4 separate regions of the Homo sapiens genome follow, and regions 1, 3 and 4 are each reported to be linked to region 2. The links are microRNA targets in miRTarBase. Many come from high-throughput screens and were not tested one by one. Region 2 holds a microRNA gene; each other region holds the end of a gene's coding sequence.
What was found. The annotated mature microRNA hsa-miR-4698 reads UCAAAAUGUAGAGGAAGACCCCA and lies in region 2 at 2,980-3,002, shown strand. An mRNA with a match to its seed (bases 2 to 7 or 8) in the 3' UTR can be bound and repressed. Matches are read on the target gene's strand: a 7mer-m8 pairs with bases 2 to 8, a 7mer-A1 pairs with bases 2 to 7 and ends in A, and an 8mer does both.

Region 1 (7,123 bases), not on the chromosome of region 2:
ATCCTTGATGGGCTCAATCTCAGGATATGGAACCTGCTGATAAAGGGGGACTGGCTGTATTTATGTGCATCTTATTCAGACACCCCCTAACCATAACTCCCAAGAGGGCCTGGAGGACACTCTTTTCTTTAAAGTCTTGGTAACAGAAGCATCAGCCTCTTTAAAGAGCTGATGCAGCCACTATGATGGTTGTCCTTTGCAGACTGGAGATGATGGTGAGAGGTACTGCCAAGGAATTAGGCCCCTTGACCTCATTGGGAATACTGGAAGAAGCCAGGCAGCAATGCCGAACTGTTTTAGACCAGGTAGGCACAATTACTGTAATAAGCCATAGCAAAGGATTGACATAGTGTATTTTTACATGTGGGGATCTGTGATGATGGCTAATTGATCCCAAGGTTCCTGTTAGACTGACAGCCTTCTAAAGTGTTGCATGACACCTATAGACAAAACAATTCTAGGTCTGTTGTGCAAGAACCAAACTCAAGTCTCCATAGTGGAGAGAGCCTCATATCCAGTTTCCAGACTAAATAAATCAGGTTATAGACCCAAAGTCCCTTGACTGAGGGGGCAGATGGGAGCCTCTGAGGAAGGATTTTGTAATTGTGGCTTCATGGGTATACCATAAATCTTCCCCCAAGCCTTCTGCAGAGAGAACTATGGTTATTCATCAGGGTCTTTGCACTGGGGAAACAAAAATACTCAGCTATTTCACGGTTATTAAGATAGTGACTCTGAAATTATACTGATTTCCAGAGACCTTAAAAGCCTCTGTGATCCAGTTTTCAGAGTGAAGGCTAATGGAGGTTGCGTGAAAGATGGATTCTTGGTCTGACTTCTCACAGGAGCCCATCCTGTAATTATTTCCTCAGTCCCAGAATACACAGAAGTAGGATATAGCAGAATCATCACACAGTTTCCTTAACCCATGAGATAAGGCATTAAGGAAAGGCCAAGTAGAAGGTTTAAACCACCCCCATTCTCTGACCCACATAGTGAGTGGGATCTGTTGATTCCTACTACATTTCCATTTGATTCACCAGCTTGGCCAGCTGTTCAAGTCAGACAGGTCCGAATGAACAATGTTTCACATTTTTTTGTTTTGTGTGTTGGTGTTGGTGTTACACCTTAGGATCACCTGCAGATTTTTTTTTTAAATGGAGATGTCTGACGCCCACCCCCAGGCACTGCGAGTGTGTGTGTTTTCTAATTATTTTGAGACAGGGTCTCCCTCTTTCACCCACGCTGGAGTACAGTGGCACAATATCAGCGTACTGCAACCTCCACCTCTGGGCTCAAGTGATCCTCCCACCTCAGCCTCTCCAGTAGCTGGGACCACAGGCGCGTGCTAGCACACCTGGCTAATTTTTGCATTTTAGTAGACAAGGGGTTTTGCCATGTTGCCCAGGCTAGTCTCAAACTCCTGGGCTCAAGCGATCCTCCCATCTCGGCCTCCCAAAGTGCTAGGATTACAGGCGTGAGCCACTGTGCCTGGCCCTATTATTTTTTAATGTTTTTTAGCAACAGGGTCTCACTCTGTGACCCAGGCTGGCACGATCATACCTCACTGCAACCCTGAACTCCTGGGCTCAAGCAATCTTCCTGCCTCAGCCTCTCAAGTAGCTGGGACCACAGGCACACACCACCATGTTCTGCTAGTTTTTGCTTTGTTTTGTTTGTAGAGATAAGGTCTCGCTATGTCTCGCCTCAGCCTCCCAAAATGCTGGGATTACAGGCATGAGCCACTGCACCCAGACACTGATTTAACAATAAGGGATACCACTTGGACACAGAAACTTTTTAAAGCTTCCCAGGTGAGTCTGATGTGCAATAAAGTTTGGGAACCACTGGTCTTGGGGAATGACAATAAGTTATCACAGATTTAACAAATGATGTCAATCACAGCTGCAGTTGGCGATTGGTACCTTTATTAGACCAAATCAACACAACTCCTAATACCTGGAATAAAGCTAGTGCCATGAAAAAAATGCAACATTTTCCATTCCAGTAAGAAAAATTAAAAGAACTTGAATTATTGTGGCAGGGACAACTGATTTTACTGTCTTACTTCAGAGTGATATGAATACCCTCATTTTCTTTCATTATATAGTCTGGAGAGACTTTTATTTTCTTGATTTTTGACAAAAAAATGAAATGTGACATGTATAACATTATGCTAACTGGAGCTGGAAAGCACGAATTAGCAAGCAGCTAGATGTCTTAGGAAGACATACATATATAAGAGGTTGGGAGGTAAATACTGTTAAAGTTCAGGAGCCTGCCACATAGGTGAATCTCCTAAGGGTCTAGTGGTCTGAGGACATGGGATCTATTTTTGAAGGGAAGAAACAAGCTACCCAGGCATGACGGCTCACCTACCTGGGAGGATTGCTCGCACCCAGAAGTTCGAGGCTGCAGTGAGCTATGATCACGCCACCACACTCCAGCCTGGGCAACAAAGCGAAACCCCATCTCTTAAACAAAGGCAGTGGGGAGAGGGAGACAAGATTCTGCACCTTGCACTGGTCACCATGAAGACAGAAGCAACAATGTTTGAAGTCGCCCTTTGAGTTTGAGATAAAATATATTTGGGAATACTACCCCAACCTACTTACTGGGTAGCCCGTAAGACTGCCGATTTTTAGTGAAACCCAATGTAAGACAGGGCTCTCCAGCAGATTCAGGATGCGATGCTGCAGCAAACAGAGATGCTGTGTGGAGTCTCTTCCAAATACTATTAGGACAATCACATTGCAGACTCCTACAGCTTTGAAATAACGACATGCACACCTGTCAAAAATTTGTCTCCTCCCCACAAAGACAGGGTCTTCTTCTGTCATCCAGGCTGGAGTGTGGTGGGGCAATCACAGCTCACTGCAGCCTCAACCTCCTCCTGGGCTCAAGCGAACCTCTCATCCCAGCCTCCTGAGTAACTGGGACCAAAAGCACACACCACCACAGTTGGCTGATTTTTAATTTTTTTGTAGAGATGAGGTCTCATTATGTTGCCCAGGCTGGTCTTGAACTCCTGGGCTCAAGCAATCCTCCCACCTCGGCCTCCGAAAGTGCTGGGATTACAGGTGTAAGCCACGATACCCAGCCAATTCTTTATTTAGTCATCTTAAAAGGACACAACAGAAATGATATAAAATAACTTTTATTTACATAATTTATATATATATATAACTGCTTTCTTTAGAACAAGAAAATTTATAAATGACATGATATTGCTTTTTCTGTCAAAGACTTCTTCAAGCAAGATAGTATACATGGTCACTTTTGTTTCAAATAACATGATGGTAAACAGTGGATATTAATATTTTTGTCATGCCTCAACCATTTACCAACAATTAGGCGTTCAAATCCTCATGTTGACCACTTGCTAAGACATAAGTGTTCAGGAGAAAAAGTCAAGAAAAGATAAAAACTTTTACTCATATCTCCTTTAAAATTTGTGAAATAAATCCTTTGCAACATCTTCTTCACATGAATCAGACCTAACATAGTTCTTTCCAACATGTAAGGTAAATACATTGATTAACTTTCTCTTTTCCAAAATTAGGTTTAAGGATTTAACAGTAGGATACTTTAGCTGGCTGACTTGATTCTCTAATACAATGAGTCTCTGTATTCTTTATATAGTAAGAAATTCCATTTTCCATAAAACTAGCTCATTATAGATTAAAAAGAAACAGATGTTAAAGTTAAAAACTAATATTACACAAGGATAAATAATAGTTTAATCATGGCAATCTAACTCCCAAGCTAACACTAAGAGAATGAAATCTTTTCAGAATATGAGTTTTAAAAACTTACAAAAACAGGGTATTCAAATAGCAATGTGATTTACTACCATGATTTCTGTGACATATCAATCATGAAATAAATGCCTACTTATAGACAATTTCCGCTCCGAATTATATAGCCTCCTCTCTGACAAAGTGTTACGCCATAAATTTCACTAAAAGACAATGAATAAGAAGTGCTCTAACAGCAGTAGTTTCAATAAATTAGCATTACTGTTATATGTGCTGAGACATAATTCTCTTCTATTAAGGAACTTAAAAACTGGCCACCATTTTTTCAATATACAAACATAATTATCTAGACTCTAAAATATCTTCCCAACTGAAATACTGATCATTACATAATACAGTCAACAGTTTTAACTTTTAGGCACAACTCATAACTTTAGTGACAAATAACTCATCCATACAGATATCAGCACCTCAGGGTAAGAAAATTTGGGGCCTAATGTAGGGGGTCAAACTAAAAGGCCAATCCAGCCACAGTCCTTCATTCAAGTACTGTCTATGGCTTCTTTCACACTGAAATTGCAGAGCTGAGTAGCTGCCACAGAGACCATCTGGCCTGCAAACCCAAAACAGTTTGCAGAAAGTTTCCAATGCCTGAGCTACTATACTATCAATCCAAGAGGCTTTTCAAATAAAATCAGGATAAATTTGCTGTTTGAGAAGTCTAATTGGAACCACTACAGATCTGCTTGGGTAGATAATAGAATTACACGTATAAAAAATCAAATCTTGAAATTAAAACAAACCTTAAATTCATACTGATGATAATCATTAACTTTATAAAGCCTTATTTTCTCTGTTTTTAACATCATGATTATGTTCCGTGCTTAAAGATCCAAGTGTTCCTTGAGAATTTAATGGGAAAAAACTATGAAGAAATTGGCTTTTTAAAAACTAATATTATGTCTGTGGGTGTATAAAGGAGATTGAGCTTTGTATGGAAATTTTGTCTCATAAATAAAGTTGAGTTCCCCCTATCCTCATGAAAATCCTGAGATTATCCAAGAAAAGCAGAAAAATTTACAGTACAAAGTCAATATACTAAACTGAGGGGAAAAAGGTATTCAAAACATATACACCAGCTAAACATTTTTAGTTATATCATTTTAAATATCTTTAAAATTAAACAGAAAAAGGAGACAAACATAAATTTAATGCCTTCTTTATCTACAATCTGAGGGGTAAAAATAGCTAAAACTGAATATCCTTTTAAATAAAAAATTTAAAAATAAATAAGCCCTTTGATGTGTCATCTTTATAAATAATTATGTTTAAATACTAGTTTTTCAATTAGGACTAATGTTACATCACCATGAATTAGAAAAATATGTATTTTTCAGTCAGACAAACAGCTGATAATAGAAAAGTTCTTTAACATTTGCCATACTAAAGTGAAGTTTGACAATTTGTTTTCACATATAGTCACGTGTCCCTTAACTACATGTTCTAAGAATTGCCTTGTTAGGTGATCTTGTGTGAAACAACGCAGAGTGTACTTACAAACACTGAGATGGTACAGGCTGCTACACACCGTACAGACTGAGGCTATGTGGTATAGCCTATTGCTCCTCGGCTACAAACCTCTACAATGTGTTACTATGCTGAATACTGTAGGCAGTTGTAACACAATAGTAAGTATTTGTGTATCTAAACATATCTAAACATAAAAAAGCAATGCACTGTGTTATGATGGCTATAATGTCACTAGTTGATAGGAATTTATCTCCATTTTAATTGCATGGGACCACTGTAATATATGTGGTCCATCATTGACTTAAACTTCATTATGTGATACATGACTGTACTTAGAAGCAAATGAAAAAGCCTTCATCCTTCATCATCTCCCCCTAAAAATAAAAAATCTTCACAAAAGAAGTTGCTAAATGTTAAATATGATACAATTAACCCCCAAATCTGTCTGCACTGCAATTCATACAGAGACATATATCCACAACATTCCCAAATGTCCATGTGTGCTTAGCACAGGAAGAGTCAAAATGTAAACAAGAGTTGTTATTTCTGTCTGAGAAAGCAGTCTTAATTGCTTGCTATTTGCAAAATGCTGAATCAGTCAGAATGAAAGGAACCTCAGAAATGTTTTCCACTGATTATAAAAGCTTCAAATCAAGCTCATTAAGTATTCAAAATCAACCTAAAGAAAAATAAGACAGTGATATTTTGCTCTAAATACTGTTTTGTTGATGTAATTGACTCTGGAAATCCTAGACCTAATTTAAAAAAGAAAAAGAGAAAAGATTGTTTTATTCTGTTTCATCCACTTCAATGAAGATATCATTGAAGAAATATTCAGAGACTGTGGTTGCCTCCCCTTGAGGGGCCCGCTTTTGGGCACTTTTATATCCTTCTTTCAGTAAGGGCTGATCACAAGAAACCTAAAAAGGTAATAAAAATAAAGTAAAAATAAAACTGTAATACAACATTTATATATATATGTGTGTGTATATATAGCAGTCTAAACCAATATGATCTGTTTGAAAAGCAACGTGGCAATAAATATTGAGCTTTAAATATGTTCACAATCACTGACCCAAAAATTTCACTTCTATGCTGTTACATTAAGTAAATAATCCTAAACATAGTAGGAGTTTTATGACTAAGATAACCTTTGTAGCATTAGTTATAATAATAAAATAGGAAGCAACTAAATATACCACACTAGATATAATTAGGTAAATTACAGTGTACCCATAATCCATTACTTCATCCTAATTTCCATGAAAAATTTTAATAAAGAAAAATATAATATGGTTAAATCTGTCACTAAATAAAGTAAAAATACTTTAATTATTTGCATAATAGACAGACCCATGACAAAACAGCACCTAAAGAAAACATATCAAAGATACCTTATCAGAAATTAGCATACTTACAAATCTATAAACAAATTAAGACAGCATGGTATTGGCACACGAATGACAGATATATCAATGAAACAGAAGACTAGAAATAACCCCAATATATATAGAAATTTAGCATCTGATAAAAGTGCCATATCAAAAACAGTTATTGTATTATTAAATAAATGATGTTGGACAACTATATAACCATCTCAGGGGGAAAAAAGTCAGACCAATACCTTACCAAAACAAATTCTAGATGGATCAAAAGATTTAAATGTAAAAGTATTTTTTAAAAAACTCTACTATAAAAATGCCATGGAAAAACACTTTTATAATTCTGGACGGAGGTAGGTGGGGAAGGGTACCTTTTTATTTATTTATTTATTTTAAGACAAAGCCAGGCTGGAATGCAATGGCATGATCTCAGCCCACTGCAACCTCCACCTC
Region 2 (7,123 bases):
CTACAGGTGAAAGAAACCTGGCAGAGGTTAAGTAACCTGGAGTTATTTTTCTTACCTAGCAAGAGGTCTAGAGGTGAGTGGTTGCTGGCAGTAGTTCAACTGTGTAGTAATGCTGTCAGACTCCTTCTTTTTCCCTAGCTTTCCTTTCCACCAGCTTTAGCTTGTAAACTTGTTTCCTCATGTTTGTAGCCTCATAGTCACAAGATGTTGCTGCATCTCCAGGTAGATGAAAGGCAGGAGCAAAAGGCCTTTATATGGATTGAACTGTGTCCCCAAAAAAGATATGTTGATATCCTAACCCAGATACCTGCAAATGTGGCCTTATTTGGAATGCAAATGTAATTAGTTAAGATGAGGTCATATTGAACCAGGGTGGGCCCTAATCCAATAACTGATGTCCTTACAAAAAGAAAAAACAGAGACAGACACAAGAAGAGAACGCTATGTGAAGGCAGAGACACACACAGAGGGAAGACAGCCCTGTGAAGAAGGAGGCAGAAGTTGAAGTATTGAAGCTGCAAGCCGAGGAATGCCAAGTATTGCTGGTGTAGGAGAGGAAAATAATTACCTTTTCTGTACCCATCCTAGGTTCTCCAGCTAGGGAAAATTAGACTGCATATTAGAGTGGCCCGGCACGGTGGCTCACACCTGTAATCCCAGCACTTTGGAAGGCTGACGGGGGTGGATCACTTAAGGCCAGCAGTTCGAGACCAGCCTGGCCAACATGTTGAAACCCCATCTCTACTGAAAATACAAAGATTAGCTGGGCTTGGTGGCAGGCACCTGTAATCCCAACTATGCAGGAGGCTGAGGCAGCAGAACTGCTTGAACCTGGGAGGTGGAGGTTGCAGTGAGCTGAAATCGTGGTACTACTACTCCAGCTTGGGCAACAGCAGAGCTAGACTCAGTCTCAAAAAAAAAAAAAGACTGTATATTAGACTGACAAAAGACAGATTAACAAGAGAAAAACAAACAAGTTTATTGAAATATGCATTGCACATACACATAGGAGTATTCAGTAATAAGTAATTCAAAGGAGTGGTTAGAACTTGAACTTAGTCTGGTGCAGTGGCTCACACCTGTAATCCCAGCACTTTGGGAGGCCAAGGTGGGCGGATCACGAGGTCAAGAGTTTGAGACCAGCCTGACCAACATGGTGAAACCCCATCTCTACTAAAAATAACAAAATTAGCCAGATGTGGTGGCACGCCCCTGTAATCCCAGCTACTCAGGAGACTGAGGCAGGAGAACTGCTTGAACCCAGGGGGCAGGGGTTGCAGTGAGCCAAGATCGCGCCCCTGCACTCCAGCCTGGGTGACAGAGTGAGACTCCGTCTAAAAAAAAAGAAAAAAAAAAAGAACTTGAACTTACATAGAATTGAGCAAAGAACAATAATTTTGTAGAGAAGTGGCAAGACAAAGGAAAATGACTTTGAGCTTCTAGGGGCAGCAAATTGTGGGAAGGCAAATATATGGGGAAACTTATGGTAGATGAGGGCTAGTTAATACGTTTTGTTTTTGTAGATTCCTCTGGATGACATCTTGTCTCCAGTGATAAGGTGTTGTCCCTTTATGTTATCCCTTTACTGGTAGGGGGGTAGAGGGGGGCACTTTCACAAGGGGAGCTTATGTTCTGTTTTCAGGCAGATAGGAGGCGGACAGAGATCTCATCCTGGGTCTGCTTTTTCTCAGTTGCCTTCAAGTCAAAATAATCCATATGCCAGAGTGGCATATTGTGGGGTGGCATAATCCAAACCCCTTCATTGGCAAGCATCAGAAGCCAGGAAGAGACAAGAAAAGGTTTTTTCCCCTACAGCTTTCAGAAGGAGCATGGCCCTGCTGACACCTTATTTCAGTCTGAGGGCCTTCAGAATTGTGAGATACTACATTTCTGTTGTAATCTACCCAGTTTGTGATACTTCGTGATGGCAGCCCAAGGAAATTAACACAGCACAAAATCTTGTCTTTACTTAGGATATCTCCAGCTGATTTCTTTTTATATCCTATTGGCCAGAACAAGGTCAAATGCCCAAACCAAGAACAACCAATTGATAAAGGGAAGGAGATTTCCATGACTGGTTAGGCCTATCCTGGAGTCGGGGACCACTCTCCTTGGAAGCAAAGATCTCTCCTTACCACCTGAACACACTGAAAGAAGGGAAAATGGCTCTTGGGGAGGTAGTGGGTAGTGCCTATCACACTTGAAGGTGGACCACTGTGCTGCTCTGTGGACTTTAGAAATGCTGCCCTACTTAACAGTGTTTGAGATTCATCTCAAAACAGATCTTTACCTTCTCCAGAAGCACTCAGGAGTTTAGGTGAAAGATCCAGGTGGATAGCTCCAGGGTAAGAAGTTAGAAATGCTGACACTATGTGAGAGATAGTGTTCATAGGGAGAGACCATGGGATCTTACCTAAAACCAAGAAATGGGTGGTAAATGTAGTGAAAAGGAAGCACCAGGAAATTGGAAATCTCAGGGAGGAGAAAAGGCAGGTGAAATGATCTGGTACTGATGAAAATCCCCCATCTCTACATCAAGGGGATTATTAACTCAGTTTCAAAAATAGAGAACAAGAGAGAAAAAGAGAAACAGGGATGCTGTTTTAACTATAGGCAGCAGTATATAGTAAGACATATTTTTAATCTTTTATCAGTGAAAGTGTAAACAGTTAAATCCAGCACTAAATAATAAATGTGTCAATATTTTAAAATATATTTTTTCATAGCTAAAATTAGAACTAAACATGCTAATGAACTCAGCACCAAGGGCTGGAGGTGATGGAGAGAACATTTCATCTCCCAGGCAACTCCCAACTCTGCAAGTTCTAGAATTCCTAAACATTAAATTTTCTTCATTGAAGACATATTTGGGAACTATAGCTTCATCATAAGGCAGCCAAGTCTTGTGATATATGGGTTAAAGGAAAGTTATGCTTCTCCTGGGGTCTTCCTCTACATTTCCACCTAGACGGGCCTGGGTCAAAATGTAGAGGAAGACCCCAGAAGGAGCAAAACTTTCACCTGCGCCTCTTCCACCTGGGTCTGTCCTTTATCCTACCAGCTCCAAGAACAGGATTGTAATTGGTCACCTGATCTACCTGCATCTTCCTGACTGCAACAAGTTCTTTGCCCTATAGCTGCTTTATTTCCACAGTTTGTCTTACCTGGAAGCACCTCTTCCTTCTTGGAGTCCCTTCTGTTCCCCAGACATACCTCTGTCATGGCACCATAGCATTTTGTGGCTTTTAAAAATTACATGTCTTATCTCCCCTTACTAAGGACTTTGGGGACAGTGATCTTGCCTTAGTTGTCTTTGGGTTCCCAGCATCTAACACCATTGGGGTCTCTTAAATGTTGGATGAATAAATAAATTATTAAAGGCTAATCTCAGGGGGGAATAGAATATGTCATAAATTCCTCAGCTGGAACTCATAGGGATCAATGATGTCCCACACAAAAGCCCTATAGGGACAAGAATTCAGGAAGGGTGTTAGCTGCAAATCTTCCTGGCCTATGGAGAAGCATGGAATATACTGTGAGCCATATATGTCCCTGAAGCTAATCTAATCTATCTCAATGAAATTATATGCTTAGGTATTGTCATCTCAGTTTCTAATGTGTAACTTTTGCTTTCCTTGGAAATTGAAAGGATTTGAGCCATTTCTTAGGTAGTTTCAGGACGATACTGCTTCTCAGAGTTAAGGACTTCCTTTTTTCAATGTGTACCTGAACATCCAGAAGTTAAAAACAAGAGTAGCAGAGTCTTGCAGATGCAAACATAGTACAGAAGTTCTCATCCATCGCCCAAATTGAAACGTGCAATGTAAGCTGTAGCCATCCAGTTCCACTGCAGTGCTGGAGCAGAGGAGCAAGGGAGTTGGGATGAATGTGAAGAACTCAGAGGACCATTGGGAGCATATTCATTTCACTCATTCTCCGTAAAAAACAGGCATGTTGCTGGTAACCTGGACTTTTTCCAACCCTGGCTACACAGTTGCTGGATTTAGGTGCCAGACTCCTGTTGCTTCTTATTGCAAAATGCCCCCACATGGCATTTTGCCCCATTTTCATTTCTGCTTCTGATTAGGTCACTGTGAACTTTCTCTCCATGTTTACTCAAAGTACCAGAAATATGTAGGGACAGCCTCCACTTATCTCGAGATTTCCTGCTGTTCATGATTCAGCTCACTTTGCTGTTCTTTTTCATTTCCTCTATCTTACATTTTGATTGTTTTTTATCTTCTTTTTCTTCAGCTTTATTGCTTGTTTCATTGGTTCTTAGCCCAGTGTCTGAAAGTGACCCTGAGAAGTTGTCTAAGCAGAAAAGCATGCATTGTGTTTTTAGATTGTTCAAGACAGGGCCGCCATTACCCCATTGGATGCCTTTGTGCAAAGTGGAAAAATGTGTCCTTTTCTCTGAGGAGATGCAGCCCTACACTAGGGTGCATGGCTTGGTTAGCAGAAGGCAGACTGATTTCAAAATCCAGTCTATTGTGCATTCTTGTGCCGTGAATGGAGAGGTGCAGCCCTGTTTAGAGAAGAGCCTGTAATCTTGCTTAAATAAGTCACTACAGCAACTATTATCTCACAGTGAAAATGTTCCTCTTTAAAGGCCGCTAAATAAATGAATGACCTTGGACATACATTTATTTCCTCACTTTTCAGTAGTTTACAAGATCCCTGAACACCATTCAAGGCTTATATTAGTGGCTTTCTGCTACCGCTAACATCAAATCCAAAACACCATGGACTTACTTGCAAGGTCTTATTTGCACTTTCAGCATAGCACCATGGACTTATTAGCACACTTTAGTGTTATATTACCATCTCACACTTGTCTTCATTTCAGCAAACAATTAATAAACATGGACTAGGAGCCAAACTCTTGAAGCACAACTTTCGTTTATCACCAGCTTCGCATTTTCACCTCATCTAACCCTACTAACAAAATGCATATCCTTGAAACTTCCAAACAGAAGACTCTGGGGATGTTTGGCAAAACCTCAGCATAACTTCTGCTGCTCCAGGCTTGGGATCCACAGAAGAGCTGCCTCTTGGGTCAGCTCTTCCAGCCCTGCTCGGCTCCTCCCTTGGCCACTCCCAGTCCCACAGACCCTCCTCTATGCACTGTGCTCAGACACCTGCTTGAAGTGCAGAAACTACTTCAGTATCACTTGAGGGAATCTCTAGGTATAAATTCTACACAGAAGAAAAATGTTAATACTCTATTTGCATAGTGTTTTGTTATTTAGGAAATGCTTTCACATGCATTAGTTCGTGTAATCCTGAGTTGGAATAATCAGCCAAAAAGCAAAAATGCATACAATTCAGTTGTCTCTCAGTCTATCCCACCCCGTTCTTCCCATGGTGCTGGTTGGTTCATAAATGGGAGCAAGTGAAAGCCTGCCCCATTGTGGCCCCAGTTCTGGGCTTCAGTTTCCAAAATAGATACAGACCTCACCCAAGTTCCATCTGTTCTAACCCACTTCCTCCTTGTCCTGGTCTCCAACCTTTGGCACCCATGCATTCACTTTGGTCGCCTCTTCCAGGTCTTTCTTCCTCCAGCTCCCTGCAGGTTAAGGATGAAGTGGTTTCTCTCAATTCCCTTTGTACGAGAAACACAGGGTTCTTTATGCCTACACCAGTTTCAGTGGGAAACCCTCTTTATAGCAGCTATGCAAATCCTGCATCTGGGATACCTGTGACTCATTTACACAGAATCTTGATCCTTTCAAACAACAATAGTAACACTAACTCATGCTTACTGGTTTCTGCGTGGCAGGCATGGCACTCTGTGCTCTCTGCATGTTATCTCATACTGTTGCAGATTTAGGTTGAGTACCTGATGCCAGTAAGCCAAACACTGACACATCAGTGCTTAGGAGCACAGAAAGGTTATTCAAATTGGCTACAGCATGAGGGTGCGAGAGGCACCTCTCAAACCCCACCTGTCTTTGAACATAACTGGGGGGCTTTTACGAGTAAGGTAGATATGTGGGAGGTGAGATTCTCTGATGATGAAAGCTGCTTGTGTCCCTCAGCCAATCGAACTTCTGGATGCCATCAAGGAGGTCTCCATGACCTAAGGATCATTGTTCTTTAAAAGAAAAACCAGTTCATTAATCTTGCAGACAGCCCCTGGGGGTCAGGATATGAAGTTAATCACTTATTAATGACTACCCTCTAACGAAATGACTATGTGCAAGCAAACATGCATGGAGGAAGACAAGGACAAAGAAAGAGGAAGAAGTAAAATGAACATCTTACGATTTTTATAATATAGGCTTGGTGACATCACCTTCCCAACAGACACACAGGGCTACTATGAGTATGCCCATTTACAAATGAGGTTGAATTGAAGCAGTTTTTACAAAGGGACACCACTGACCCTAAAGCCCTGAGCTGTCTGTTTCCAGACTTTTTTCACTCCTTTATCTTCTGCCAGCTTTACGACTCCATACATTTAATTCCTCAGAGACCACTATTTTTGTTTAAAATCTCTAAGTTTCTTCCTAATTCTATACCCCAGTGTCAGCATTCAGCAGTTCTATAAGATCTCAAAAGATTATTTCTCCCAAATCCTCACCTTGACCCTCCCCAGGCAAACGTTCACATGTTCACAACCCAATGCATTCACTTTACTCTCATCCTAGGCAAATTGGGGGAAGTCATGTTTCCATTGCAATCCGGAAGAAGAAATACCGCAGGCCTGCCTCTCTCCACCCAGGACTTGGGCATAGTCATCATCCAGCCTTTGCCCTAAAGCAGAGGTTTTCAGCCCAGGTTGCAAAATAGATTGCCCTGGGAACCTTCATAAAGCTGGACACCTGGGCTGCTCACCCTGAGGAATTGAGGCAGAATCGCTGAGGGTGCGGCCTGGACACAAAAGTTTTGGGGTTTTTTTGGTTTTTTTGTTTTGTTGTGTTGTGCTTTTTTTTTTAAGGACCTGGTGATTCTGATGAGAACCACTTGCCTGCCTTTCTCTTTGCCAATCTGAGTCCATTACCATTTTCTTGAGCTAACTCAGACATCATTTTCTTTAGATACTCTATAGGAGCACCTAACATGGCGCTTGCCACAGAAATGATTGACTGTTTTCTCTCTGTACATCCTCATTAACTCC
Region 3 (7,123 bases), not on the chromosome of region 2:
TTATTTCCTGTCTCAAGATAAACTGACTGTTGGCAAGAGGAAACGAAATGAAGATGATGAGGTTCCAGTGGGGGTGGAGATGGCAGAGAATACTGACAATCCACTAAGATGCCCAGTCCGACTTTATGAGTTTTACCTGTCAAAATGGTAATCTTTCTCTGAACTGAATGTAGTGCACTCAGAAGGCAGTTAACATATTTTGGATTTCAGATGCTTGAACATCAGAAAAGTAGCTTGCCCGTGGCTTTAGACAAGGATTTACCATGAATTTTTTCCCCATTGTCATATCTATGTGGATTTTGAACCACAAAACAAATTACCTTGTCTTCATAATTATTTTATGAAAATGTCTTCAAAAGCAAGAATCACTGCTATTGTTTGATCTTTACAACTGTTGTACAACCTTTATGTGATACCTAATCTGTAGTTATTTTGTTATTTGTATAGAAAAGAAATTTTGTTTTGCTAAAGCTATAATAGAAAAACAATTTTTAAGGAATTGAAATTTTCTAAGTAGTCCTTTTCTTAGAGGAACTTTATGATTTTAGAGTTGTAACACTTTTTTTTCTGAAAGAAATGTAATAGCTTCATTTGCCCTTTGATAATGTGTATTGAGTGCCCTTGGAGTTCATTCCAGGATATTGGGCACTTCCAATATGTGGTGCTTGGCCATAGTGTCACATGTGAGTTGACTTTTTTGTTGCTCTTAATAATGTTTGAAGTACTAAAGTTTATGATTTACACTTTGTCTTATATTAACTTTATACTCACTTCCAATCCATTGTGATTTCAGTTGATTCCTGGGAGGAAATATTCCTGTAAACTATTTATCTCTGTGGGTACCTTGCTTTCCCCATTGTGAGTCACAGTGGAGAAAGGTTGAGAGCCATATTAGGTTGGTGCAAAAATAATTGCAGTTTTTGCCCTTACTTTTAATTACTTTTAATGGCAAAAACCTCAGTTTACTTAAGAATAGTACATATTTCCTATACTCTCTGATTTCTAATTTTCTTTTTTCTCTTTTTTTTTTTCCCCTGTGGATAGTTCTGAAAGTGTGAAGCAAAGGAATGATGTGTTTTACCTTCAACCTGAGCGCTCCTGTGTCCCGAATAGCCCCATGTGGTACTCCACATTCCCGATAGACCCTGGAACCCTGGACACCATGTTAACACGTATTCTCATGGTGAGGGAGGTACATGAAGAACTTGCCAAAGCCAAATCTGAAGACTCTGATGTTGAATTATCAGATTAAAACGGAAGTGAGGTTCTTATTTTCATACATATTGGTATGCACCAAACTGTGAATGCATCCAGCTGTTGGAAAATGATGTATAAGTCTAAGTCCTCTTGACTTGACCATAAGATCATGGAAAACAGATGACTTGTGAACCCCACAGTGTGGATGTGCAAATGAAAATTGAAGGAAAGAATATGAACTGAGAAATGTTCTTTGGCAGTGATATAGTTCTTAGACATCTTCAGAATGACTAATTTCTCCGAGTGGTGCATAATCTTATTTTGTTTGGGAGTAACAAATCGTGGAATATTTTTAAGGAAAACTGTTGTATAAAACTTTACCATAGTAACCTTAGACCTTAGAGAGGTAGCTTTGGAGTGAAACTTTGGCTGCAATAGGCTACTTTGGCAAGCCCTCCGTAAAAGTCAGAGGAGAGATCAGTACAGAGCTAAGAGTGACATCAAATGAGGACTGTGGGACCCAGATTTGAAGACCCAATAAAAATACTCAACTTTTTAAAAAAGATAGTGAAGTGGTCTTGATTGATTTTGATTTTCACTGCCAAGCCAATCATGTGAAGGACAGAAGCTTTTGCCATGGGCCCCTCACATCAGGGAAAATGACCTTCACTGCTGTTAACAGTAATGTGTCCCTTTCATTTTCTGGATCAAGCCTTCTCAGCGGTGGGTCTGGATGTGGGTAAACTAAGGTAAAGGGGATGATATTCCACAAACTAATTATGCACACAGAAAATCTGTGGAGCCTATCAGACCCCAAGTGTCTTGAAATGTTTGTAGAAACCCACTAAAATGCCCCTTCTCTGGGTGTGGGCCCTTATTGCAGCTGTCTCACAGCCTGAGCTGTGGTACAGAGAAATGGGGGTTCTCCTTTTATTTTCATTTTTTTTCCCCAATGGCAGCTTTTCTCCCGTTGTTTTACCTTCCTATTTCCCAAACAGTTCCTCTTATTTTGTCTTTTGCACCAGTTTCTGGAGGCCCTTGTCATTTCAAAAAGGATAGTCTCTTTTCTTACTCTGGCAAACCTGTGAGTGATTCCACAAAGATACAGTATTACTTAGCTATCTGAATTATGATAGAAAAGGTCCTAGTTAGGTTCCTATATAAAGCATTTGGAAGATGACCTTGTTGCCCTTGAAACTTGAAAATAGGGATTCTGGGGTGAGGATACAAAGACATTGTCTTGCATATCCATAAGCAGGTCTTAGAGCATTATTCCAAACTCTAGCTGTTTCAGTAGTTCTATGAGGATTGCAAGTCATAGGTGTGTGTGGCATATCAGTCCATCTCCCTCATCTCCATTCTCAGTTTCTTCCCCACAAAATTTGGAATCAAAGCTTTTATGACGTTTGCCAATTGCAGAACTTCTTCAGCTAAGGTTAATTTGACGCTATGATAAAACTGAGAGATGTCAAAAAGCCTCTTAGAAATTTTAATCTTGAAAGACTTTTCAGGGTATCTCATTTTTTAGGTGGGGGTGGCAGGTGTATTTCTTTTTTAACAAATAAAAGGCATTTAAGTAAAACTAAAATGAAAAAAGTAGGCCTTCTGACATTGTGTACTTGGTGGTTCTGTCCCTCTGCCTGTAACAAATCTCATTTTTGTTACCAAGAACTGTATGAAAGAAGTAAATCCACCCCGATTCTGTATGATTAATTCCATCTGTGTTTGTCATTTCTGACTGGAAAACTTCTTACTCCATACCTTGTTCGATATGGAGGACAAATAATTGGATTGTCTGATAAGTCTGCCAATAAACTATCCAGAAATAGCAAGTGTAATAGTCCCCACTATACGAATTTTATGGTTTGTATAAACACTAACATTTTCCCCTTCTGTAGTTGTATGAAAAAACAAATATTGTTAGCATAGTAGATAAATTGTTATGAAATACCAGAAAAAAAAATCTGTATCTTTTACTGAGAACACCCAATACCCAGATAAATGACTGTATCAGGATTTCATTTGCATGTTAGTCCACAGAGTTGCCCAGAACCCTAAATTTATTCATAAGAGAAAATATTGATTAATTATTGGTCATTCCTCATAAGTGTAGCTGTTGATGTGTGCGTCTGATTATTGCTTTTTTAATTTTATGAAAATTGTGTAAAATTACATTTTTTTTCCAGGGGAGAAAAAAACATCAAACAAAAACATCTAAATCATCCTTTTTGTTCTTTTTCAGTTTTTAACCACTTTTAGGTTTTCCCCTTACAGAAACCACAGAAATATTCCCTTAGAATAAAATAGTATATTTGTATTTGATGGGTGAGTTCTTCTTCTTTACGTCTTAAAAGAATTTGAAATCTCTTTTTCTGATTGACCTTATTGGTATGACCCAGCAATTAGTAAAATTACAAAGAAAGAGAGCAGTTTCCGAGAAAGAAATTTTTTTTATGTAGTCCAGTCAACATATTTTTTCATTGCAAGTTCTTTTATTTCCTTTTTTCCATCAAAAGACTTGTTCCCATTTTTAGCTAATTTACTGACTATATTCAAAGTCCCAACAGGTAGAAATATCAGAGATCATTTATACATATCATTTCAGGCAAACTTTTTTGAGATTTACAAAGCCTACATCAGTTCAACTTTAATGAAATTGTAAGACTAGAATAAAGGATATGTTCATTCTTAAGTATAAATACATGTTTAAAACAGGAATGTAAGACTAAATAGCATTTTCCTTCGACTTCAGAGTTGTCTTGGTATTATGCAGCTGTACTTTCAAATTCCGTATCGACTTTCTACCTACCTGCCTTGTGGCAATCCTAAATTTATAAAACAGGTTTTCCCAAAAGATCTAATGTAAAATGAATTTCTATTAATGAATTCAGAATTTAATTTTCCAAAGAAGTCTCCTAGGGTATTGAGTTGAAGTTTTAGGAAAGAAGCAATCATACCCTGAACTCCTCTAGACTAGCACTTGTCTGTTACACTGTGCTATCATCATTGAAGAGAATAGTGATTGAGAGGCAATGCTATGTAGTGGAGAGATCATAGGCGTCGAAGCCTAGTGTTTCTACTTACTGGTTGTATAACTTTAGGTAAATTACTTAACCTCAGGCCAGGCACGGTGGCTCACACTTGTAATCCCAGCACTTTGGGAGGTCGAGGCAGGAGGATCATGAGGTCAGGAGATCGAGACCATCCTAGCTAACATGGTGAAACCCTGTCTCTACTAAAAATACAAAAGTTAGCCGGGCGTGGTGGCGGGCGCCTGTAGTCCCAGCTACTCGGGAGGCTGAGGCAGGAGAATGGCGTGAACCCGGGAGGCGGAGCTTACAGTGAGCCGAGATCGTGCCACTGCACTCCAGCCTGGGCAACAGAGCGAGACTCCGTCTCAAAAAAATAAATAAAAAAATAAGTAAATAAAAATTAACCTCTCTGTGCCTCAGTTTTGTTATCTATAAAGTGGGTATAACTCCCTTATTAAGTTGTGCCTGGCACATGGTAGGCTTTCAAATGTCAGATATTTTTTATTACATGCAAATTTCCTGGCCTGTACTAACACATTAAATAAATGTTAATTCCCACACTACAGTCTGAATTTTTACTAAGTATAGCACTTTGGCTTCTGCAAAACATAATACTCTATTTATATAACCAATTCTACATATTTGAATCAAACAAAATTACAAATTCTTCACTTGTGCTTATGTGCATATCAATAGTAATCAACATCACAAGAATCCATTGATATTTTCACTATATTGAAAAATGGGGCTGGGCACGATGGCTCGTGCCTGTGATCCCAGCACTTCGGGAGGCCAAGATGGACAGATCACTTGAGGTCAGGAGCTCGAGACCAGCCTGGCCAACATGGTGAAACCCCATCTCTACTAAAAGTACAAAAATTAGCTGGGCGTGGTGGCAGGTGCCTATAATCCCAGCTGCTTCAGAGGCTGATGCAGGAAAATCACCTGAACCTGGGAGGCGGAGGTTGCAGTGAGCCGAGATCAGGCCACTACACTGTCCAGCCAGGGCAACAGAGTAAGACTGTCTCAAAAAAAAAGAAAAAAGAAAGAAATGGGCATGTATATCAGTATATATAGGAACAGCATATGATAGAGTTTATTAGTTTTTTTCTTTATATTTCTTTTTGTTTGTTTTGAGACACAGTCTCACTGTTGCTCAGGCTGGAGTGCAGCGGTGCGATCTTGGCTCACTACAACTTCCGCCTCCTGGGTTCTAGTGATTCTTCTGCCTCAGCCTCCTAAGTAGCTGGGATTACAGGTGTATGCCACCACACCTGGCTAATTTTTGTATTTTTAGTAGAGACGGGGTTTTGCCATGTTGGCCAGGCTGTTCTCAAACTCCTGACCTCAAGTGATCTGCCCACCTCAGCCTCCCAAGTGTTGGGATTACAGGTGTGAACCACCACGCCTGGCTAATATTTCTTTTTTTCTTTGAGATGGAGTCTCGCTCTGTTGCCTAGGCTGGAGTGCAGTGGCTCGATCTTGGTTCACTGCAACCTCTGCCTCCTGGGTTCAAGTGATTCTCCTGCCTCAGCCTCCTGAGTAGCTGGGACTACAGGTGCACGCCACCATGCCTGGCTAATTTTTGTATTTGATGGGGTTTCACTATGTTGGGCAGGCTGGTCTCGAACTCCTGACCTCAGGTGATCTGCTGCCTGCCTTGGCCTCCCAAAGTGCTGGGATTACAGGCATGAGCCACTACATCTGGCCTATTTATATTTCTTTGCATATGAATGCCAGGTCATAAATTTATTTTTTAATTGGGAGAAAAACCTTAAATCTATGAAACTTCTTTTACTTGGTAGGTTATATATGTCATCAGTTTAGGAACAAGACAACGGTACAACAGCAATCTCCCCACGCTTCACTTCATTAACAGAACTGCTCCTTCCCCAAAAGTTTTAGCTAGGCAGTGGCTCCCTTGGTAAAAAAGTGTATTTTCCAGGCTAACTTGTAGTTAGGAGTGACCATGGGACGAAGTTTTGACCAATGGCATGGAAGCAGATGTGAGTTTACATCTCCCAGGCTACACTCCTAAAAGGAAAATGCATGCTCCTCTCTTGTCTTCCCTTTTTCCTCTGATCTGGAGCATGAACGTGGTCATGGCAAACCAGTTTTGTCCATGTGGGAAAGGGCAGCATACCAGAAGTACATTAACCTCATGGACAGAGCCACCTGTCTCTCCTGGTCTGCCTACTAGCTCAGACCTTCACATAAGAGAGGAACTTTCATCTTATTTAAAGCCTTTTTTTTTCCTCTTCATTAAAGTAGCCAAACCAGTATCCTAACGAATACACCGGTAATGCCCACTGTCACATTACCACTAAACGGAACTGGAACTTCTCATCACAACAAAAAAGGTTATCAATATTGCAAGGTGAGAAAACACATTTGTTGTTGTTGTGTTTTGTTTTTGTTTTTTTGTTTTGTTTTGAGATGGAGTTTCGCTCTTGTTGCCCAGGCTGGAGTGCAGCGGCGCGATCTCCGCTCACTGCAACCTCCATCTCTCAGGTTCAAGCGATTCTCCTGCCTCAGCCTTTCAAGTAGCTGGGACTACAGGCATGTGCCACCACGCCTGGCTAATTTTGTATGTTTAGTAGAGGCGGGTTTAACCATGTCGGCCAGGCTGGTCTCAAACTCCTGACCTCAGGTAATCCTCCTGCCTCAGCCTCCCAAAGTGCTGGGATTACAGGCGCGAGCCACCACACCCCGCCAACAAACTCTTAAATAAGTTTGGCCGGCCACGGTGGCTCACACCTGTAATCCCAGCACATTGGGAGACCGAGGCAGGCGGATCACGAGGTCAAGAGTTTGAGACCAGCCTGACCAACATGGTGAAACTCCATCTTAACTAAAAATACAAAAATTAGCTGGGCGTGGTGGCAGGCGCCTGT
Region 4 (7,123 bases), not on the chromosome of region 2:
TAAAGTGCAAATTCAGGTGGGTGACCCTTCCAACTGCATCTGGAGCCACAGTCATGGCCTGTGTGTTAATGGCAGGTGGGAGGGTAACACTGATCTGTGGCCTCTAGCTTAAAAGCAGCCTAAGTGTAGTTCCATATATGAAATTTCATTCTAAGTCTGTGGCCAAAGAGCTCAAATCCCATTAGAACCCAGGCTAAACCTCCAAGAGCAGTAGGAGGCCAGAGTCATGGCTTCAGGGTTCTCCCAGAGCAGAGTGGACCAGACATAGCCATGCACATGCGAAAACTTGTGTGCATTTGCACACTTGATTTCCTTTGCATGTGCATGGCCATGCAGGCAAATGTGGCTTGATGTGGGCCAGGACTCTCTCATTGTTCCCCAGGACTCCCTTAAGAGGCCTGGAATCTCCATGGCACATTAGCATGTGTCTACAACATGAATGACACCTACTAAGTGTGGCATCGTATGCAGGTCAGTCTCAACAGCTGCATGCAGTACTCCTCCTGGCTCTCTGTGACTCCTTGGCCATGGAAAGCCCACACTTACATATGCTAAAGCCTCCATTCTTCTCTCTGCAGGGATGACATGCCAAGCTCGAAGCTCCTACATCACCAGTGAGATCCTGTGGGGTTACCGGTTCACACCTGTCCTGACCCTGGAGGACGGGTTCTACGAAGTTGACTACAACAGCTTCCATGAGACCTATGAGACCAGCACCCCATCCCTTAGTGCCAAAGAGCTGGCCGAGTTAGCCAGCAGGGCAGAGCTGCCCCTGAGTTGGTCTGTATCCAGCAAACTCAACCAACATGCAGAACTGGAGACTGAAGAGGAAGAAAAGAACCTCGAAGAGCAAACAGAAAGAAATGGTGATGTGGCAAACCTGGAGAATGAATCCAAAGTTTAGTGCCCTAGCTGGGCAAACCCTTCTCTTCTCCCCCCAACACAATCTTTCCTTGTCTCTCATTCTCTTTCTTTTTCTGTCTCTCTTGCTTTGTTCTTTATTTGTTTATATTTAATTTTTACATGACCAGAAAACAAATCTTCAAGGTGTAAAATATCTACCTGCCCTCTCTCAGTTATTCAGATTGACAAGGTAGACATGGATTTGATGAAAGTGCAAAGTGCCCTCATTTGTGGCCCAAGCCTGGTCTCCTCCCAAAATACTACACATCCAACTCCTGGAGATTTCAGTTACTTACCTGCATGTGTTGTACAATACCAGATCACTCAAAAAGGTGTGTCAAAGATTTTACCTGGGATATGACAAGCAAGGTTTCTGGTGCCTATTTATTCATTCAGTGAGACACAGAGTGGAGCCCTCAGTTTTATGGATCCCAATTCATTTCATCTACTACAGGGTGAGGTGCTTGCCCCCATGTGGGTGTGGCAGTTACAGGGCCCAGGTGAGCTGAAGACAAACCACTGTACATATATATGCCTTATGTAATTATTTTCTTTTTGTAATTAGTAATAAAACCCAGCATGTACAAAAGTACCATAGAACAGAACTGCTAAATACTGTACATAGATGTATCATTAATGTAGGTTTAGATATATAACTTTAGAAATAAGAAGCAAAAAAAAAAAGAAAGAAAGAAAGATTCCTAACATGCAGTAGGCATTTCTGTTTTGATGTCTGTGTTTTCCAGGTTATTTTGATCCAGTTGACGGCTGGCCCTTCAGTGCATGGCCTTTGTTTGTGTCTCAGACTGGCAGACGTTAGGGTACCTCACTGTTCCCACACGGATCCTTTCATTGAATCCAACAAGCCATAGGTCTGGGGGAAATTGAGAGGTCTGGTAGATGGCAAAACCCACCACCAATATGCTGATATACTGTGAAATGTTACAAAACAGATGTCTTTTTTTAAAAGATAACAAGGGCCTCACTAACTGGCCTGGAGGAGGGGGAATACCAGGAAGGAAATATTCTCTAGCCTGTCACCAAAGGTATGTTTTTACTTTTCACATGAGCTCTTGCCCTTTGTAGTACAATAATTTAGGAAACTTTTCTGCAAAACCATTGATTCTCCAGCTGTAGTTTCTCTACACTCTTACAATGAGACATGGTAAGTTAGCAGAAGATGGTTTGGGTCTAAAGCCGTGAAATTCACAAAGGCATGTAGTGAGTGGCATGCATTATAATCATCGACCTCTCACTTTGACTCTATCTGGCTTTCTGAGAATGACATCTCGCCTGTCCCTGGGGCTTATCCATCAGCATTTCTTGCATTGTGATCTTTTATTATTTTGAAATGACCAGAGTTCAGTATTCAAAGATTAGATCAACAATCTTGATGATTGTCTAAGAAATGTCTCTAGAGTATGCCACAGGCTAGAAATCAAATCCAGTGTCTGTCAATCAAAAGAAAACAAATAAAAAAATTCCAGCCTTAATTCACTTTAATCTGCAAAAAGGAAAGAAGGGAGGAAGGGAGGGAGGAAGGAAGGAAGGAAGGAAGGGTATTTGTACTGGAAATCTGAATTTTAAAATGAAAAAAATAAGGAAACAAATCTTAGATCAAACCTCCGGGGCAGGTGGAGATTTTGCACTGTTACAGATCTTTCACATTCACTTTGCATTTATAAGCTGTTTGTTCTTTAACACAGTTGCCCATCATAAATATTCATTGAATGGATCCAAGTTTATTTTCAGCTCCTACAGCTGTGCTCAGTTTGAGGCTCTGCACCATGGAGGTCAAAGAGATCAAACTAGCTGTCCCTCTTTGTTTCCCTTGCCTTCCCTGACCTGATCGCACAGGCCTTTGGTGTAGTCTGGGGACCTTGTCTACTAAAAAAGAAGTCCCAGGATAAGGAAAGTGGCTCCTAAATATAACCTCGGGGCCTCTCTTCTCCCATCTCAGAGACCTTGGATCAGGACAACTGCCTCTTGGCACTGACTTTAAGGAAAACAAAACTGTTGGCTATAGCCCTTTCCTGTTTGCCAGCATTTCCTTTTTTGCATTGAATCTCTGTTGAATCATTTCTTTATTTCGCACACTCTAAGAAGGAGGTGGTGGTCCGGGAGGAGGAAGCTCGATACACTCCCCTTGAGGCTGCGGGGAGGAGCCATGGCTTGACCTCTCTGCAGCCTAATGAAGGGCACTCTTGGCTTGGGGAGCTCCCCTGCAACCTTGCCAGGGTCGCAGGGCAGGCCATGGCAGGCACAAAACAAGATGGAATAGGGGCGGCAAAATGTCTTCTAATTTAGCTCTTGAAGACTCACTGGGCCTTTTTAATTCCATTGCTAAGGTTTAAAGGACAGCGCACACCCCCGTGTCTGGTTGGAAGAGCAAGCAGCTCAGGGCCTCATCCCTGCTTGCCTGCCCTTTAGCACAACTGAACGAAGAGCCTTGACAACACGTTGGCCACGTGCACCTGTCAGTTCTGTGTCTGTGACGGGCACCCAGATGTGAGGTCTCTCCCTGTTTCTCACTGTCTTTGTTGTCAATGTAGTTGGAGACAGAACTTGAACCAAATCTCGTTTTTGTAATGTGAGCCTCTGAATCTTTACATGGGGATGCTCCTGAAGAACCTTTTACTAGAATGTCCCTATCAAACATGTCTATTTTTCTACAGTTGTTAACACAGTTTAACAGTGTATTTTGTGTCAACTGTTAAAATTTGGAACTGAAAGTTCATTGAGACTGATTTTCTAAGCAGCGAGTAGTGAGTGAATGGTGTTTTCCATTAAGACAGCTCAACAAAATTGACCCCACAATTTCCACTCATTCTATTCCGCAATATCCAGTCCTCATTCCCTCAGTCACTCCATTAGCAAACCAAGTGCAATGAGAATTTTTTAAAAGTCTCTTTTAATACAACAGTATCCATAACTAATGAAGATCACTCTCAACTAGATCCTTTGGTCTGTTTGGTTAATGTATTTGAGTCATTTTTCCATAAAGCATGGTGGGATCCGTGAGCCAGATAAGAATTTGGAATTTAAGGGTTATGGTTTGCCACAGTTGACCCCAATTTGACAGAACAAAGTGCTCCTGGATGGAAGGGCAGGTTCAGCTGCAAGCATGACCCCCCACCACAAGGCTGCTGAGTTCCTCGGATTCTCACCTCCACCCACCCCAACGTGCTCTCCAACTGGAAGAGCACCCATTCATTTATAAATCAACTTTATGGAACCAATAAAATCATTTCTGTTTTAGCTGTCCCCTGGGTAAGCTATACTCTTTTACATTAACATAGCAAATGTCAACTTTTCTGTTCCTTCAAACATGGCCTTCCAGCCTGGTTGTTCCAGCATATATCCCCTCTATGTCCATGAGGCAGAACTCTCTCTTCCCCCACTCCGTTCTTCCATCTATCCCCATCCTTTGCTGTTTCCCTGGTTCTCCAGTTCCAATTCTATTGTTTTAGTTCAGTACCTTATGTTCCCTAACAGAAATCCAGCTGCAAATGTCAACCTATTTCTTAAGCACAATTTTCTCTTGCAGGTCTAACCAAGCTAGGGCTCTGAAATGTCTATTTTTCACTGCACTCCAATTTAAAAATTATTCATGACTTCATTTAATAGTCTAAATTTTGAATTCTCCAGAGCAACATTCTTATGCTTTCCATCCCTACATTTTCTTACATTTCAGTTTTCTTACTTTTTTCCCCTTTGCTTTTTTATTTAGATTTAAGCCAGTGTCTTTGGGATATTTAGAAACTGCTTACAAAGGTGGGAACTGGTGGACAGAGAAAGGGGGCATAAGAATGCTATTAGAAAACTACCTGAACTCACCAGAAGAATGGGAAATCATTTGATTTGCTGAGAGAATACAATTAAAATACTCATAGTAAATCATTTCCAAAACAGTTTGCTAATAGTCTGGCTACTCTTCAGTCTTTCTTTCCTTGACTTGGGTGATACTCTGTATGATTTAAAAATGTCAGGAAGGTAGTTGAAAGTTCAGTGTCCTCTATATATTGTAAACATTATCTTCAAGGATGATTTCCTTTCAATGGATGGCTTTAACATTGAAAAACATAGGTAACATATACATAATAGATGATTCATTGATATTACTTTACAATACACTAAAATAACATTATCTTGTTTCTGAACTTTATGGCCAACCGGTATCTAAGAAAATGTTAGCCTTTAATTTAAAATTGAGTAAAGCACGCCTCTTCCTAATATTTCTGCCTTTAATGTCTTGAGTGCTTTAGATGCAGAGTGTCATCTAGAAGTCAAAATTCTGTCAGAAGGCTGCTAAGAGATTTTGATAAATCACAGAATATATAATAATAACCCAACAATATTTTACCCAACATGGTGTGGTGTTTGAGAGCATTAAGAGCACTTGTACAAATTATCTTATTTCATTCTAATTCACCATGAGAGGTTGAGTATTATAATTTACATTTTATAGAGGGAAAACTAGGGTTTGGGCAAATTGGCCAAGTTTAAAGGCCAGTGAATCATAGCTCCTTGTCTCAAATCCAGGTCACAGGGCCCTAAGCTGTGGGCTATTTTTACTACAAAAAATTTCAGCAAACCAAATCTGCTAAAAAAAAAAAAATCTGGCCTGCTGCCTGTTATTGTACCACTTGTGAGCTAAGAGCAATTTTTACATTTTTTAATAATTGGGGGAAAAAAAAGAAAAGAAGAATATTTTGAGACATGTGAAAATCATCCTAAATTCAAATTTCAATGTCCACAAACAAAGTTTTATTGGAACACAGCCACAGCCATTTGTCTGTGTATTGCCTATGGCTGCTTCCACATGCACTCACAGAGCTGAGTAATTACAACAGAGACCGTGTGGCCAGCAAAGATTGAAATATTTACTATCTGGCCCTGTATAAAAAAAGTTTGCTGACCCCTGTACTGTACTGTTAAGTACTATTGGTACTATTAAGTACTAGTAATAGTACTATTAATAATAGTATGTAAGAGTACTAAGTACTATGAAATATTGTACTGTACTCTTAAGAGAGTCCTAGGCAATATAGAAGAATGACTTTTTTTCTAGCATAAATTATTGAAGTCACTCATAAGTCTGTTCAAAATAACATAACTCTTTTTTTTCGGTTGTCAAAGAGACAACTGCTTCACAAGACTTAGAGAGCCCAGTCATTCAGTTAGGGTCTCAAAGGAAGAATCCTTCCTTTTCATGCCATTCCTCCAGAGTGGCAAATAGAGTCAACAGCCAGCCAGGATCTAGCGGTCAACTCAGAAAGTGGATACAGTAAAATTACTCCTTAATGAACTACAGAGAAATGGGCATTCCCAGCCCAGCCGCTGAAATATTGCTTCAGTGGCACCCTCAGGCGTTGGATGATGTACATAGCTCAGGCTGCCAGTCTCTGCTCAGCAAAGCAGCCCAGACCTGCAGTGGTTGCCACACATCAAACCCGCCTCGCTCCTCCACATGGCTTCTCTCTTAGGCTCTCTTGGAGGAGAGTTAAATAGGTGGCCCAGATGTCTCCCTCTGTTTTCTTGCTAGTTTTCTCTAGCCTACAGTTTACAACTGATCAAGGTGATGAACGTGAACCTGGAACTAGCTCATGTTTAATTGCGCTAGTTTTTGCTCTCTCTAGCCACTAAGCTAGAAGTTTAATGTGTAATTAAAGAACTAAATGCTTCTTATGGAAAACCAAAAGGTCCTTTGAAAAGAGCTCAGGGAGACACGGAAGTATAGTAAAGGGTTGTTGGATTTCTTGCGCTTTCTGAGTCTGAAGCAAAGACAAAGATTGGTAATTACAGACATAATGGATGGAAAAAGTCCAGACCTTGGGGTTTTTAGATGAGTCAATATTAAATGGCATTCTTTGTGTCACTAAGCTGAACTCCCTTGTCTTCTAAGGAAGCATTTCTAATGCCAGAGGTAGTCAGCCAAGCTAGGTTCCTTATCTTTTTAGTTCTATGGAAAAACATATCAAGTTCTCTTATGAGTGCTTTCCTGGAAATCAGATGAGAAAGAAAAAAAAGTAACAATGTAACAAATCATTGTGATGTTGTTATATTGTCGACAGATAAAGGATGGATTTGATCCTGCGTCTGAAACTAAGTAGGTAATGGTATCTACAATATAGATCATGCAAAAAGCTTGTGACCCTTCAACTGCATGGAAGAGTGGGAGGAAACAACTAAGTGGGAGGAAACAAATCTCAAAGTTCAA

Region 1: the mRNA of BDP1 is a reported target of hsa-miR-4698. Seed matches in the 3' UTR shown: 7mer-A1 at 5,957-5,963, 7mer-m8 at 5,871-5,877 and 8mer at 5,808-5,815.
Region 3: miRTarBase lists ZMYM4 as a target of hsa-miR-4698. Seed matches in the 3' UTR shown: 7mer-A1 at 1,783-1,789.
Region 4: miRTarBase lists KCNJ6 as a target of hsa-miR-4698. Seed matches in the 3' UTR shown: 7mer-A1 at 1,653-1,659, 7mer-A1 at 2,247-2,253, 7mer-A1 at 4,536-4,542, 7mer-A1 at 5,219-5,225 and 7mer-A1 at 5,613-5,619.

Annotation. Positions count from the first base shown.
Region 1 is chr5:71,563,839-71,570,961 of GRCh38, reverse strand. It overlaps BDP1 (BDP1 general transcription factor IIIB subunit), which reads right to left. Exons shown (of 39, transcript NM_018429.3): 39 at 3,142-6,208. The coding sequence ends at 6,077. Among named protein-coding and RNA genes, the nearest start is that of MCCC2, 20 kb to the left of the region's middle.
Region 2 is chr12:47,184,881-47,192,003 of GRCh38, forward strand. It overlaps MIR4698 (microRNA 4698), which reads left to right and starts at 2,932; the gene lies at 2,932-3,011. The region is part of intron 2 of PCED1B (PC-esterase domain containing 1B); the gene reads left to right.
Region 3 is chr1:35,418,426-35,425,548 of GRCh38, forward strand. ZMYM4 (zinc finger MYM-type containing 4) reads left to right here. Exons shown (of 30, transcript NM_005095.3): 29 at 18-147; 30 at 1,045-3,633. The coding sequence ends at 1,252. Among named protein-coding and RNA genes, the nearest start is that of ZMYM4-AS1, 56 kb to the left of the region's middle.
Region 4 is chr21:37,618,940-37,626,062 of GRCh38, reverse strand. It overlaps KCNJ6 (potassium inwardly rectifying channel subfamily J member 6), which reads left to right. Exons shown (of 4, transcript NM_002240.5): 4 at 579-7,123. The coding sequence ends at 904. The region is part of intron 1 of KCNJ6-AS1 (KCNJ6 antisense RNA 1); the gene reads right to left. Among named protein-coding and RNA genes, the nearest start is that of KCNJ6-AS1, 100 kb to the right of the region's middle.